2 separate regions of the Homo sapiens genome follow, and region 1 is linked to region 2. Evidence: fine-mapped expression QTL. Tissue or cell type: whole blood. Region 2 holds a variant in brackets; the other region holds the start of a gene. All regions are shown on one strand. Distances are from middle to middle.

The links. PIP is the estimated chance that this variant, and not a neighbour inherited with it, causes the effect.
Region 1: it holds the start of TBC1D20, and the variant in region 2 is fine-mapped to the expression of TBC1D20 in whole blood (TOPMed, PIP 0.95).

Annotation. Positions count from the first base shown.
Region 1 is chr20:458,726-466,812 of GRCh38, forward strand. It overlaps TBC1D20 (TBC1 domain family member 20), which reads right to left and starts at 3,808. Exons shown (of 8, transcript NM_144628.4): 1 at 3,611-3,808. The coding sequence starts at 3,680. RefSeq lists silencers at 3,191-3,339, 3,408-3,897, 4,178-4,247.
Region 2 is chr20:431,749-439,852 of GRCh38, forward strand. RBCK1 (RANBP2-type and C3HC4-type zinc finger containing 1) reads left to right here. Exons shown (of 12, transcript NM_031229.4): 12 at 1-391. It overlaps TBC1D20 (TBC1 domain family member 20), which reads right to left. Exons shown (of 8, transcript NM_144628.4): 7 at 7,360-7,547; 8 at 3,732-7,093. The coding sequence ends at 6,838. Among named protein-coding and RNA genes, the nearest start is that of TBC1D20, 27 kb to the right of the region's middle. The variant T/C (reference allele first, on the strand shown) is at 4,564.

The DNA.
Region 1 (8,087 bases), 27 kb after region 2:
GTTATTGTTCCTCTGGAAAAAACTGGCTTGCAGTAAATGACATTATTTTTCCCATACTGTTAAGGTGATGCTCACTGCAGAACTCTCTAAACAGATCTGCAGACTCTTTGGCCTGTTTCTAACACTACCGGTGTTTCCCAGAGGAGGATGCTGTCCCAACGTGGATTTCGGCTGCTGTTTTTTTCAGGCCCCAACACCACCCTCCTCAACCCCACAGCCTAGTGATTAAATGTCAGTGGCAGATGGAGAAAGCACTCCCACGTGTGCCACTCTGACAAATACTTTATTCCAACTAAATGTATAGGCTCTCACTGTGACATAAAAAGGGAAGAGGAAACAGAAAATTCAAGTGAGCTAAAGATGTATGAATTACAGAGTGAGATCAACTGCTAGACGACACAGGGAGGGAGTTAGCAGCGTCTCCACTGAAAGACAAATTCACAGACATCCTGTTTATTTCCGAAAGAGAAACATCATAGAGCTATTCTTGGGATGTTCAGGAAAAGATTAAAATAAATGCCTATTATCTATTGTATTTCGAGATAAACTTTATAGATTTAGAGCAGGACACACATTTCTGGACTTGAGAACGCTGTATCTGGCTTGGAATAAAAGCCCACATTTCATCTAGAGGTAGAATGTATGTCATTCTAATCTCCCTCAATCCTTTCTTCTCCAATTTCTTTATTGCCCCACTTACAAGATAGTGCACTATTATTCCAAAGCTGATACCTTCCAAATTCCTTTATAGTAGAGGTCTTGGCTATCATAACCATGATGGAACGAATGACCGTCCTACAGCTGGCTGCAAAATATAAGACTGCTATAAATAAATCCCTGATGCCTGAAAAGTAATTCATTCAACAAAGGAAGATAGGTATGACTTTGGCCTACTCTTCATTAGAACGCTTATTTTTATTTATTTATTTATTTATTTATAAAGAGGGCAAAGCAGACTTTATTTGAGGGGCACCACAGCAATAGGTATAGCAACAACTGCAACAGGGTTTTGTAGTCAGGGAGGGAGATCAGACTCAACTCCCTAAAATGCTAATTTTAACAATGGGACACTTCATCTGAACTGTGGTTCTTAATGGTTCAGATAAAGATGACACAACCCACTATTGGCTTAAACTTCTCCCAACTCTGGCTACAGAATCCAGGTAAAGATTTCTGCCCCCTCAGAGTAATAGGCATGTCCAAAATCACCTGGATTAGGGCACTTAATACACTGGGAAGGGACGATAACAACTAAAGATGACCACTATCCATGCCTCCTCTAAAAGTTTTTTCATATATTTTTTCATATCACCAAAACAAATACTAACTTGGATCAACTAATTTATATAATGGAATCTCGTGTGAGCGTACAAAATTCCATACTGATTATTTGGTTTAAGCCTGCATTATCATAAAGGCTTTACAGTCTTTAAACTGAAATTAAGCTCAAATTAAGAAATGCTAGTCTTAAAACAATGGAAGGGGGGGGCCGTTTTGTGTGGAGGGAGGGAGACAGACATACCCCTACACCCACCCACAACTACTGATATTGACATTGGAAATTAACTTGAAAATTTATGCCTGTAGTCCCAGCTACTCAGGAGGCTGAGGTGGGAGGAGCACTTAAGTCCAGGAGTTGGGAGATGACAGTGAGCTTTGACTGTGACACTGCACTCCAACCCGGGTGACAGGGCAAGATCCCATCTCTCAAAAAAAAAAAAAAAAAATGCTTTAACTCCACGTCTGTACCAGAAGACCACAGCAGGAGAGGAAAACCTTATTTCAGTCTGGGTAAGAGTTCTATTAAACACAAAATAAAACAAACTAGCCTCTGTTTCTGGAGGTCTTCATTAGTAGTTTCTACAAAACAGTATCCAAATTAGCAAAGATTCTGTTAACTACCTGGAAAAAGCAGGTACCAAGAAAGAATGTTTCACTACAATGGAAAAAAACAGTCTAGTAAGTAAACCAATCTGACTATAAACGCTACAAAAGAGGGATTCTAGCATTAGTAACTTTGCCAACAATACTCTGATATGATTAAAAAACAAAACAATAACAAAAACAAAAAACCTCATCTTTAAATTTGTCCCATTCATCCAGAGAAGCAAAATCAAGGAAACTAGAGGGGGTAAAGTCTTGCAACAGATACACAGCTGCACTGCCAACAGGTCACAAGACCCATGCTGCCTAGGGCATTGACTGTTATGCCATGAGGACAGACATCACACAAACACCAGTAATTAAAGGGTTACGGTGCCAAAGGGTTCAGAGCTCCACTTCCATTCAGTATCAGAACATAAGAAAAAGGGAAAAACAGAAAATGAGCCCAAATAAAATATAAAATAAAATATAGATACCAGGAGCTTCCTCAAAATATGTGGGTTGTATTAATAACGTGTTTGGCTCTGTTACGGGCACCATCCATCAGAGGACTGGAAATAGGGAAAGTCACCTTAGTCTTCCTCAAGGAAAAAAGATTATTTAACTTGGTTCACGGTGTACATTCATAATTTTAACTGTCATGTATTTATTGAATGAAAAACATTTGAGAACATCATGTGCAACAAAAACATGATTTCACAGAAATTGTCCAAACTAAAAGAGTATAAAAATAGAAGCGCTTTTTATACAATTATTTACTTATTATTATTATTGAGATAGGGTCTCCATCTGTCACCCAGGCCGGAGTGCAGTGGCGCAATCATAGAGTAGCCTCTAAGTCCTGGGCTCAAGCGATCCTCCTGCCTCAGCCTCCAGAGTCGTTGGGATCACAGGCTCGAGCCTCCACACCCGACTAACTTTTAAAAACTTTTTGTAGAGATGAGGCCTCGCTGTGTTTCCCAGCCTGATCTCGAAATCCTGGCCTCAATCGATCCTCCAACCATGGCCTCCCAAAGCGCTGGGATTACAGGCGCGAGCCATGGTGCCCGGCCGCTTTTACACAATTGAATAACATTAAAATAGGTGGCAGAAGACAGACAGAAAGTCGATTCGTGGTTGCCAGGCGTCGTGAATACCGGGGAACGCGGAGTGCCTATTAATGGGTAAGGGTTTCGTTTTGGAATCAGACAGCGGCGATGGCTGCACAACTTTGTGAATTTTCTAAGAATCACTGAACTGTGCACCTTAAAGGAAGAACTGTGTGGTAATTACATCGGCGGTACGCGGGCAGCGCGTCAATCAAGCCGGCGACGGTGAATGCAGTTCGGGAGAGCTGATACCCCTCGGGGAGGCGGCTCCGGGAGCCTGCGGACGTGGCGGACGCCTGGGACGGGGTGGGCCTGGCCTCCGCGCTCGAGGAGTCCCAGTCCTCTCCAGATGGAAGAAAGCCGGGGCGCGAAGCCGCCGCCCGCTCTTCTGCCTGGGGACGCGACTCTGCCGCCAGGCTCCCTCGGGTCAGCTCGGCACCCGCCCGAGCCCCCCCAGTTCCAGGCCCTCTCCTCATCAGACGTGCCCTGGGCCCTCAGCCTGTTCCTCTCGCCGCCCGGAACCCCGCAGCAGCCCCGGGTCCCCAGCCCGCGCCCCTCCGGCGCCGCCTCCGCCAGCTGCCCCTGCCCCCCGGGCCGCCCTCGCAGGCCGCTCCCGGCGCCCCGGTCGGCTTCCGTACCTGCCTTCTCCGCGCCGCCGTCCCAGTGGCCGGAGGTGGGGCCGTCGCCCTGCGCACTCCGGAGGGCCATGCCCCGGGGCCCCGGGCCCCCACCCGAGCCCCGGCTGGTGGCGGAGCCGGGAGAAGACGCGGCTCCGACCGCGGGACGTAGCACCCGCTCGGCATCGGCAGGCTCCCCTCCGTCGGCCAGCGGCGCGCAGGCGCGCAGGCGCCCCGCTGGCCCCGCCCCGCGCCGGCACGTGACCCTGCGCTACGCCCGGCCGGCGGCGGGGGAGGCTGCGGAAAGAGCGCGGTGAGCGCTCTGAGGAGTTGGCTTCGTCTGCGCTGTAGACTCTACGGTGTAGAGTGTGGCGCTCTTGAGCGAGTGTGCTCGAGACCAGCTGTCGTTTCCTTTGCTTCTTTCATCTGTAAAATAGTATTGATGATAATAAAAATATTGAACTCACAAGGTTATTGAGAGTGTTTAGAACATCACCAAGCATATAGTAAATACTCCACAATTATGACCAATTTTTGCTTACCAAGGATTATTTTTTTACCTCCTGTCTCGTCTCCCCACACGAACTCCTGTCATCAGTTCTTGGGTACTTGGGGATCTAGCAGGTTCATGTCATACGGGTCCGCAGGTTATGCACTGCACAAGGCCTGGGAGCGCCATTTACGTAGACGTTCACGTGAACCGTGCCCCCTTAAGTTGTGCGAAATAGTGGCCACTCATCTAAAGCAGCGCTCTGGCTTATCAGGTCTGATTTCCTTCTCGTCTTCAGTGATATTCCTTTCTTTCCAATTAGACATCCATTCCCTTGGTTATATCCCTGATATTGTGATTGTGGCCTCCCGAATTTCTAGTGCTAGGTCTTCATGCTGAAGTTCCCATAATTCCAGTTGCTTGATGACTCTCTTCCACCTCCCACCCCCAACCACAACAGTTCTTTATTATCCTGAGACCTCCAGCCCATGAAACTCCTGACCTCGTGATCCGCCCGCCTCAGCCTCTCAAAGTGCTGGGATTACAGGCGTGAGCCACCGCGCACAGCCAAGTTTTACAGTTCTATTCATAAATCTAGTAAATTATATCAGTTATTTGGTCCCATTAATAAACTAAGCTAATTAAAATCCTTTGAACATTTGAAACTGCATTTATAAATTCAATTCGTTTTTCTAAGTATCACAGGTTTCTAACAAAGCCTTTCAAGTCCTTGTGTAATTCTTGTAAATGTAATACATTTATAAGAATACTGAGTCATGAGTGCTTTCAAATGTGTCAATACAAACGAGATTTCATCTTAAAATCAAAAGTCTAAATCTATTCAAATACATATTTGTAATTAGTACAAGAATAATCTGTTAGAATTCTCAAAATTATCTTTTTTTTTTTTTTGAGACAGAGTCTCACTCTATCACCCAGACTGGAGTGCAATAGCGATCATAGCTCACTGCAGCCTCAAGCTCCTGGGCTCAAGCTAGCCTCCTGTTGCAGCCTCCCGAGTAGCTGAGACTGTAGGTACACACTACCATGCCTGGCTAGTTTTTTTAGTTTTTATAGAGGGGGTGGGGAATCTCCCTATGTTGCCCAGGCCGGTCTCAAACTGCCTTCGCCTCCCAAAGCTCTGGGATTACAGGCGTGAATCACAGTGCCAAGCTCTTGAAATTATCTTGAACATTATAGGAATTTAAAGTATCACATTTACACAGATGCCTTAATGCAAAATTATTAATACTAGAAGTTTGAAAACATTTCTAGTCTTTGTTCTAAATCATCTGTGAGGCTCATGCCTGTAATCCCAGCACTTTGGGAGGTGAAGGGCTGCAGATCACTTGAGGTCAGGAGTTCAAGACCAGCCTCACCAACATGGTGAAACCCCATCTCTACTAAAAATACAAAAATTAGCTGGGCATGGTGGTGCCTGCCTGTAATCCCAGCTACTTGGGAGGCTGAGGCAGGAGAATTGCTTGAACCTGGGAGGCAGAGGTTGCAGTGAGCCAAGATTGCGCCACTGCACTCCAGCCTAAGAGACGGAGTGAGACTCCATCTCAAAAAATAAATAAATAAAATGAAATAAATCATCATTGAGGTTAAAAGATGCTTAGTGCCCACTGAAGGAAGATTTAAGTCATCCCAGTTTAAGAGTAACGTGCTCAAGCAATTTGAGATATTTATTCCCTTCTCAGTTTACTGCGCTGGTCATCCAGCCAGCTGGATTCTTGCTTTTGGTAGTGATGGAACAGTGACCCCCACCCCATTCCCACCACCACAACTCTAGGACTAAACAGTTGTGTGGTCGTTGTGAAGCTTGGGCCAGAATTTACTTTCAAAAAATGTCCCGCTTCATGTATAATATAAAGACCTTACAATAAATTCCCATTTCTTCCCTCCTGTTCTTCTTGCTGTTGTCCTACATTTTACTTTTTAAAATCCCTTCCTTCTCTTGCTTTCTCCCCTCTACCCACCAACCACTTGCAAACAACCACTGATCTACATCCTGTCACTATAGATTGGTTTTCATTTTCTGGAATTTTTTATGGACGGAATCATATAGTATGTAGTCTTTTTTGTCTGGCTTCTTTTACTCAGCGTAATTATTTTATAAGCAATCATGTTGCATTAATCAATAGTTCATTTGTTTTTGTTGTTAAGTAGAATTTCATCTTAGAAATATACCACGATTCATTTTATCAGTATTTTAAATTTTTGCATGTGCTGCAAGTACACAATTCATTGCTAATATGCTTGCCTTAGACCAGGCGGTTAGCAAAAAAGATGGTCTGCCCACCTGCAAGCCAAAACCACTCTACTGCCTGATTTTGCACGGCTCATGAACTAAGAATGGCTTTTACCTTGATAAATGTTGAAAAATCACAACTTAATTGTAGCACATTAAAACTATATGGAATTTAAATCTCAGTGTCCATAAACCTTTACTGAAACAGAGTCACGCTCATTCATTTACCTACTGTCTATGGCTGTTTTCATGCTGCAACGGTAGAGTTCAGTGGTTGCAACAGAGATATGGCCTACAAAACCTAAAATATTTATTATCTGCTCCTTTATGTATTTATTTATTTTATGTGTGTATGTATGTATGTATTTTTTTGAGATGGAGTTTCACTCTTGTTGCCCAGGCTGGAGTGCAATGGCGCAATCGCAGCTCACTGCAACCTCCGCCTCCCAGGTCCACGTGATTCTCCTGCCTCAGCCTCCCGAGTAGCTGGGATTAGCCCGCCACCATGCCTGGCTAATTTTTTTGTATTTTTAGTAGAGACGGGGTTTTGCCATGTTGGTCAGGCTGGTCTCAAACTCCCGACCTCAGGTGATCCGCCCGCCTCAGCCTCCCAAAGTGCCTGGGATTACAGGCATGAGCCACCGCACCCGGCCTATCTGCTCCTTTATAGAAAAAGATTGGCAGGACGTGGTGGCTCACACCTGTAATCCCAGCACTTTGGGAGGCCGAGGCAGGCAGATTACATGAGGCCAGGAGTTCGAGACCAGCTTGGCCAAAGTGGTGAAACCCCGTCTTTACTAAACATACAAAAATTAGCCAGGCATAGTGGCACAGGTCTGTAATCCCAGCTACTCAGGAGGCTGAGGCAGGAGAATCACTTGAACCCAGGAGGCGGAGACTGCAGTGAGCCGAGATCACACCATTGCACTCCAGCCTGGGTGACAGAGTGAGACTCCACATAAAAAAAAAAAAAAAAAAAAAAAAGTTTTGTGACCCTCTATTGTAGAGATGGAGGTATTGGGGCTGTTGCCCAGGCTGGCCTTCAACTCCTGGCCTCAAGGGATCCTCCTGCTTCAGCCTCCCAAAAATGATGGGATTTCAAGTTTGAGCCCCATGCCCAGCTCACTTCAGTTATTTCTAAGGTAATTTAAAAAAGATTTTAATTGTACTTACCTTCATTCAATTTCCAGTGCTCTTAATTTCATTGTGTAGACCCAGGTTTTTTTCTGGTATCATATTCCTTTTGCCTGAAAAACTTCCTTTAGTATCTTGTAGAAGGAGCAATGAATTCCGTTTTTCTTTATCTGAAACAGGGTTTATTTCTCCTTTATTTTGAAAGACACTTTCATTTGGGTATAGGATTCCGGAATTTTGGGTGAGCAGTTTTTGTGTGTGTATGTGTTTTTCCCCTATCAGCATCAGCAATAAGGTCACTCCATTGGCTTCTAGCTTGCATAGTTTCTGACGTCTCCATAATTCTTAGCTTCCTCTGTATGCAATGTCTTCTTTTTCCTTGCTGCCTTTAAGATTTTCTTTTGTTTTAGCATTTCGAGTATATCTAATTTTATATGTGTGTGTGTATATATATATATATATATATATATATATATATATATATGAGTTTATTCTGCATGTTCTCTGAGCTTCTTGGATTTTGTGGTTTGCTCTGTCCTTAATGTTGAAAAGTTCTCAGCCTTTAATTCTTCAAATGTTTCTTTTCCTGTTCTCTCTCCTTTCTTCTGGGAATCTAACTA
Region 2 (8,104 bases):
CCTGCATTGGCTCAGGGCAGTCAACCGTCGCAGAGGATGAGGGGCACACTCAGGCAGCCTCCCCGGCCCTGGAGGCAGAAAGGCCCAGGCAGAACCACTGACTGGGAGGAAACAGAAAAAGCAGAGGAGAGCCAGGCTGCAGGCGTGTGGATGGGACCAGCTCAGGCAGACGCTGTCTCATACCCACTCTCCCCTCTCTTGCCAGGGCCTGGCCTGGTGTCTCTCAGGAGCCTGGGCATGAGACAAAAGCAGAGATTGTTCTCTTGTGGTACCACAGGCTGTAACCAGTCCACCCAGTGTTGTTTTAGAAATTTAAATCGGTTGCCCATCTTTTTAAATTGGCAACATCGTTTACCACATTAAAATCTAGATGCCCTGCTTCTCTTGAAAATGTCAAAGCTTGGTAATGCCAGGTCCTCACTTCTACCTGGGGGGAATGGAGTCACAGAGATGTCAAATCTCTTCATGGGGTGTACACCCTCCAGTTTGCCACAGTCCTCACCACCCCAGGACTCACGCCGAGGCCTTTCCAGTGCCCTTGCACCATCCTTTTTCTCGTAAGAGGAAGATGAAGTGGGGCTCTACGCGCGGCGTATCACAGGTGAGGGCGAGACCAGCAGAGAGGGCTGTGCTGGCTGTGGCTTTGCTCGGCCTGCCCCATCCATGCTGCAGTGGTGCGGAGGAGCAGGGAGCTGTGTAGGGCCAACCCCGGTTCCTGCCTCAGCTCCACCCGCCTTGCACCTGCAAGTGAAAGGTCTTAAGACGAGCAGGCCCAGGGCACCCTCTACTGCAGGGTCAGGTGGAGGTGCCTCCACCTCCCAAGGCTCACCCATGCCAGGGGCCCAGAACTTGAGAGGCCAGCACCAACTCTCCAGGGCCGAACGAAAACCAAACCCCAGGGCTTTGGACTCAAACCATCGAGAGGAAGCAGCAAGAGGTCCCAAAGGTACTTGAGTGACACAATGATCATCATTCTCTCCTCAGGGGCAGGACAGGGGCAGGGGAAGGTGAGTGGAAGCCCATTGCTCAGATAAAGAGCAGCTGCCACGGAGGGTAGCCCGTCGGCCTATGCCGGCGCTCACTGGTGTCTTCCTCTAGTGCTTGGGGCTGGCATGGAATCTGCTCAAATGCAGGCAGCTGAAGGTGAGCCCGCAGCCTGGTGATCCCAAGTGCCAACCATGAGGAAGTCTGGAGAAAAGACCAGGGAGCAGGGGCCCTCGTGAGGAGCAGGAATTGGCAGCAGGGGCCACCAGCAGAACACCAGAGGGGACAGTGGCAGGGGGAGGAAGATACAGCCAGGCTGGGTCTCAGCCCCAGCTGAGGGTCTCACCTCTTAGCTGGTGAAGGCTCCGGCCTGTTCCTGCTTTCGGTCACCACTTCATCCCTGGGTGATCGTGGGCCCGGTGCAGGGCTGGCTACAAGTGTTTGTTGATTGGTAACTGCTCATGAAAATGGCAACAGCACTAGCACAGCTTCACAAATAGAAACACATTTCACCAACACCCTTGCAGGAAGCCCTCCAGGAGGGCCAAGACCATCCCTGCTTTACTGTTATGGACGTGAGCCTCCGAGAGGCAGTGACTTAGATGCTCACCCAGCCAGGAAGGAAGGAACACACTCGACCCTCAGTCTAAGACCCCATCAGGCCACTAATAATTCTCCCTCCAAACCCAGCTCAGGTCAAGGCCTATCTTCACCCCCAAATCATCCCTAAGGCAGCCTCAACTCTCCACAGCACTACAGCCATCCTGCCCGGCCCCAGTGCTCCACAGACCCTAAACCCGAGCCCTCCCGGGCTTTGTTGGCCCCAAACCACCTACACTTGTTACGTGTTATTTTTACACTGGCGTTTCCCCTCAGCCTTGCATACTGTGTGGTGTTGTCTGACACCACTTTTCCAGCTCTCTGACACCAACTGGGGCTAGTGTCAGGTTCCACAGATTAAAGGGCTCAGTCCCACACTTCCGATGGAGTCACAGATGGGGTGCCCAGGCTACCCACACTTCCTGGGCTACCCACACTTCCTGGGCTACCCACACTTCCTGGCCAACTACACATTCAGGGGTTCCCATGACTCCACCCCCTCAGGTTCAATAATTTGCCTGAGTGACTCAGAACTGAAGATCACCCTGCCCTGACGCTTCCTGGTGTGGTGTCCTCAAGGATGCAGTGTGGGCAGGAACAGCCACGCTTGAGATGAACAGGGTTAGGGATGGGAGCGACTGGCAGCCACTGCAATCTCAAGTTTTGGGGTTTTTTTTGTTTTTTTTTTGAGACGGAGTTTTGCTCTGTTGCCCAGGCTGGAGTGCAGGGGTGCAGTCTTGGCTCACTGCAACCTCCGCCTCCCAAGTTCAAGTAATTCTCCTGCCTCAGCCTCCCGAGTAGCTGGGATTACAGGCACCCGCCATCATGCCCGGCTAATTTTTGTATTTTAGTAGAGACGGGGTTTCACCATGTTGGCCAGGCTGGTCTCGAACTCCTGACCTCAGGTGATCCACCTGCCTCGGCCTCCCAAAGTGCTGGAATTATAGGCGTGAGCCACCGCGCCCAGCCCTGAATCTCAAGTTTGTAAAGTGCTCCACCTCTGTCACTCCAACTCCCAGGAGTCACTGCTTGGGATTGAAAGTTTCCGCCCTCGAATCACCTGGTCTTTCTGGTGCAGGAGCAACCCCGAGGCAATCTAGGGGCCCTGCTCTAACGAATTCATTAGCATGAACTCAAATGGGCTGGAAAGGGGTTATGAATAACAAAAGACACTCACCACTCACGAAATTCCAAGGGTTGTAGGAGACCCGTGTTAGGAACCCAGGAGAAAGACCAAATATTTCTTAGTATCCCACACATACCCTTCCTTTAGTTCTCCAATTATCATAATTCTATTCATCCTTCACATTCCACCCTCACCTTCTATGAAAGTGCCCTGAATTTGCTGCAGGATAGATTGCTCCTGGAGTGCAGCTCTGGTGTGAGCTTTCAGAGGCAGCGCAGTGCCCTGGGCAGCCTGCGTAATCCACGACTGTCAGATCAAAGGGCAGTGTGACCCTGGCCCACAGTGGCAGGAGCTGAGTGCCACTGGCTTGGCCCCGGGAACCTGCGCATCTCCCCTCTGAGCCAAGGAAACAAACAACACAGACAACAGTGTCTCCCCGATGGCCCCATCCCCAGGGTGGAGGCCCTGCACCGGGCACTGCTCTGCGCGCGCGCTCCCCAGCAGCCAGCAGTGTCTGGAGGATACTGGAAAGCTTGGCAAGAGTAGGCTGAGCAGCTCCTCTGTGGACAGAAAGGGCATGTGGAGAAGCGGCACATCAAGCTCTGGTTAGGATCCAAAACCAAATGCCAGCTCCTAGGATCCCCAGACCAGGGTGTGAAACACACCAAGAGCACCCCAGACCCGCACCAGTTGTGTCGACTGTGACAGTACCCAGAGTGGAAAAAACATGAACTCAAACTGTGTTTTCCTCCACTGCTCTCTCAATACCAACAGACATCTGTGGCCAAATGTGTTGGGGATTTCTCCCCTGACACCAAGCAAGCAAGCAATTCTGCAGCCTACATCAGCTGGGTATCCTCCAATTCAATTCAGTGCTCACCCTACCTATAGTATCTGGAAATGGAATCCACAGGTTCAAGGCTCTGTCCCACAAGACCGCCGCCTCTGCCACAACATTGGACTGACCACCCTCTTTGGGTGGCATGATTTGCCAAGAGTGGCTCACAGAACTCAGGGAAACTTATGTTTACCAGTTTATTACAAACATTATTAGAAAAGGATACAAATAAGTAAACAGCCAGATGAAGATACACACAGGGTGAGGTCTGGACGGGTCCTGGGCAAATGCTGGAGCTTCTGTCCCCATGGAGTGGGGGTGCGCCACCCTCTTGGCACATGGACAAGTTCTCGTTCCCCTCCCTCCACATGTTCAGCTCTTCAGAAGCTCCCGTGTTCCTGGGCCTTTTATGGAGACGTCATTGGATAGGCATGGCTGAAGCATGGCAGCTGTGTTGAGATGAAACTGGACAAAAAGCATAAGGTCTAAACCCAGCAAGGCCTGTCTGTCCAGATGCTTCTTGGCCTCTCTGTGCAGCGTTCCTCCTTCCGGGTATGGGGCAGCACCCTCTCTGGAATGAGGGTCTTATGAGCTACAGTCAGATTAAAGTCTGGTGTTGAGCAAGTGAAATGGGGCAGGAGAAGGTCACAGACAGAGATTCCGTTTTCTGAGGCCTGCAGTGTCCCAACATTATAACAAAGGGTTATGGGAGTGATGAACCAGGAACTGTGGACAAAAACATCTACACACGTATAAAATATCACAGTGCCCTGGGCTGCAGCTGGAGTGTGTGGGTCATAATTCTTGCAGATGAAACAGAAACAGCAAGACTGTAGGTACTGCCCAAGGTCTCCTAGCCAGTCAAGGCTGACCAGGAGTCCACAGACCATGGCACAGTTCTGGGCCTGACATGGAAGGTGGGAGCATCCAGATCAGAGACCATTCCCACTGAGCGGTGGCCAAGGACGGAATGACAGAAGAGGTGATTAGTAACCACATATGGCTGTTTATTTGA[T/C]ACAGGGCTCTGTACAAAATATTTACACATATTCTTTACAGAATAAGTAAACCACCTGAAGGTAATTAGATAATGCTTTCTTCTCAATGACAGGGAGAATCCTGGTGTCAGCAAAGTTAGAAAACAGATAAACATTCTCCTTCCGAGGCCACAACTCAAGCAAATGCCACTTGCTTCCTAGGATCTGAAAAGCTGTGGCCTTGGGACCCTGGTCACATGCACCTCCTTTCCTCAACCCCATCAATTCCTTCAGTATTTACAAACAGGCTTGAGTACTTGTGGAAGGAGGGGCAGCTGGTGCCGCCCACTGAGAGGATGACAAGAGGGCCAGCTTGCTTTGGGAGAGCACTGGGAATATCTGCCGCATCATCACCTCTGGAAGAATTTCCTTTGCCCTGATGAATACACCACTGTCTAAATTAATCCATCGACATCACACTTACCCCACAGTGGGGCTCCTGAGCCATGGACAATGATCCATCCCTTTGAGCTTTTTTTGGTTTTAAAGTGCGTAGTGGTGGCTGGGCGTGGTGGCTCACACCTGTAATCCCAGCACTTTGGGAGGACGAGACGGGCAGATCACCTGAGGTCAGGAGTTCGAGACCAGCCTGGCCAACGTGGCGAAACCCCATCTCTACTAAAAATACAAAAATTAGTCAGGCGTGGTAGCAGGTGCCTGTAGTCCCAGCTACTCGGGAGGCTGAGGCAGCGAGAATTGCCTGAACTTGGGAGGCGGAGGTTGCAGTGAGCTGAGACTGCACCACTGCACTCCAGCCTGGGCAACAGAGTGAGACTCCATCTCAGAAAAAAGAAAATAATAATAAAATAAATAAAAATAAAGTGCTTAGTGTAACTCAGCGGACAGGGCTCCCAGCTGCTCTGGCACGTGGGACACCCTCCACCCTGCACACAACAGGCATGCAAAGAGGACTGGATATGGTGGGGTAGAGTGCTTCTGGTGTGTTCACTTTAAGAAAACATCTGCCAAGAGAGAAGAGTGCCCAGGAAAGACCAGGAAAATACAAGTACATGGCTGCTTCATACCATATACCCCAATTCTTTAAAGCAGCAAAAGGCACTTTTTTTTTCAGGCCAGAGTGAATCTAAAACAAACCTGGCTTTGCTTACAGGGAAGCTGTCCCAGAAGGACTGAGTGATGCCTCTTGTTCCCTAAGGTCTGGAGAGTCTTTGCAAGTTTCCAACGACATTTCCAACCAGGTGGGAGAGACCAGCAGTTGACGAGTCAAGTCAGACCCAAAAAACGACGCCAAGGTAGTGAGTGGGTGCCTATTTGGGAGTAGGATGATTTGAGGAAAACAGGAAGAAAAACCGGTCAGAAAGTGGCACTTTGGAAGTGGAAAGCTGTTTGCAAATAGCAACTCTGGCTAAAGCGAAAATGTTAATCAAGTAGAAAGTAAAATTCAGGATCTTAGAAGCTCATCCTTCTGATGAGAACTATTTTTTTTTCCGTGAAGGAACTATTATTACTTTAAAAGTGAGGGTAATTTACATATGGGGTGTATATATTCTAAAAATAGTAATAAAAGTACCTTTTATAAGCAATGTTGTGTGGCTTGTAGAAGAAAGCAGGGAGGAAAAAAAGGCAGGCAAAACTAGTCTAGGTCTAGGCCCTAAAAATGAGCTTCCTTCCCACTTGACTGGAAACGCCCATGTGATTTCTAGGCTGAAAATAGGTAGGATTTAACGAGTAACCTAGTTCCCTTCTGTCTCTGATTTCTGATCAGCTGATGGAGCTGCTAGTAAGAGGGGCCGATCATGCTCCCAGACGAGTCCTTTGGCCTCTTGCTCTCCATCCCAAGCCTGACTCCTTCAGCAGCAGCCCCCTCCTTCTGTGTCCATCTGATGCAGGCAAGCAGGAGCAGTAAGAGGGCATCCCATGTTCCAGTTCACCTTCTATGGGGTGACTAGGAGGTTCCCGGTAACTAGGGCAGCCCAGGCCCAGCAGGTTGCAAAAGCAGCTGCAAGCTTCAGAAACCCACTTCCTCCAACACCAGGGAGGTGGCAGAGAGCCCATCCAAAAGCCCACTGGGAGAGGCATAAGATTCTGTGCCAGGCCCCCAGGTCCCCTCTGTGTCAGGTAGGCTCTGCTACTGGCCTCTGAAGTAAAGGCAAACACAAACGGGCAGGGCAGGGTGGCAGGAATAAAAAACTCTGGACAGAAACCCTTTTAATAAAGGAAATTCCACCCCTCCCAATCCTTCCATGGAAGGGTGAGACCTTAATGTGATGTAAGAGGAAGGTCTTCTCTGGCTTTCAGGGAAACAGCTGCAGCTGAAACTTAGGGGCCCATTCCAGGGCACTTTTCACCACAGCCAGTGCAGCCGCTCCAAGTGCCACTGTCAGCCCCATCACTGCCAATTTCACAAAGCGGTTGGTCCTTGGCTTGGTCAGGACATCTTTTGTTCGATCTTCAGGCCGCAGAAGTCCCCGAAACCGCTGCCGCAGCACCATATCAGGCCTCTGCTGGGCTGATGCCAGCTCAAAGTCTTTGAAAGTAGAGGCTGCCGTCCTGCAGGGGAAAGAGACGGAAGGAAGGAAGTGGTATGAAAGAGGAGGAGGAAAGCAAAACTACACCACATAGGCTGCGGGCAGAGCCTTTCATTGCTGGGAAAGCTCTTTATGATAAAGACCCATATGTCTACAGTGGGGATTCCACTGGCCTAAGCTCAGATCTCTGGAAACATGCCCCAACCCTATCCCACCAGACACAAACCTTCCCTCGCTTCTGCTCATTTACAGCCACCCCCATTCAACCAGTGTCCCAGCCTTGCTCACCTCTCAGCTTGCTGTTGGGCAGCGGCCTCCCGAGCAAGTTCGGATGGGGGAAACTGAACAAAAAGGTCTCCTGCTCTGCTGATCAGTGTCTCATAGGGCAAGTCCTGAGGGATCTGGGACAACAGGTGGTGGACCGAGGCCATGTCACAGTCACAGTCCAGGACTTCCTGCTCGCGATACAACACAATCTGTGGGGAGGTAGTAAAGCCTTGCAGTCAGAGGCCAGACACACAGGGCCTGGGCCACCTGCACTCCATTATCCTTGCAGATGAATTTAAACTGGTAACAGACAGGACTCAGCCCAAATGTTGAGCAAACTCTTGTATCCATCAAGGAAGTAATAACATATATACGCTCAGTGCTACTCCTACTCTCTGGCCCTTCCTGCAAACTTCCACCACATGACATGAAAGGCTGACCAGTTACAATCTAAGTCCTTCGGGCATGCTGGGCTGCTCAGGTGTCCCTTTAAGTCTTGAAAGAAATGAAGGAGATTCTTTTAGGAGAAAGTAGGAGAATTATTGGGAGATTCCTGGAGCTCCAGCATAGAAGAAATGGTTCAAAACAGTAGAAAGAACAGTCTTGCTCCCTTTAAGCATCTTCCTTCTGACTGTTGGTCCACAAATCCACAGATGCTCAAGGGACCAGTGGTCATTGAAGGACTTCCCTGAATTCCCATCTCCACCCCATCCCTCAAGACCCTTCTACTAACTGAAGCCCCTACCCTCCACCGCAAGCCGCCTCC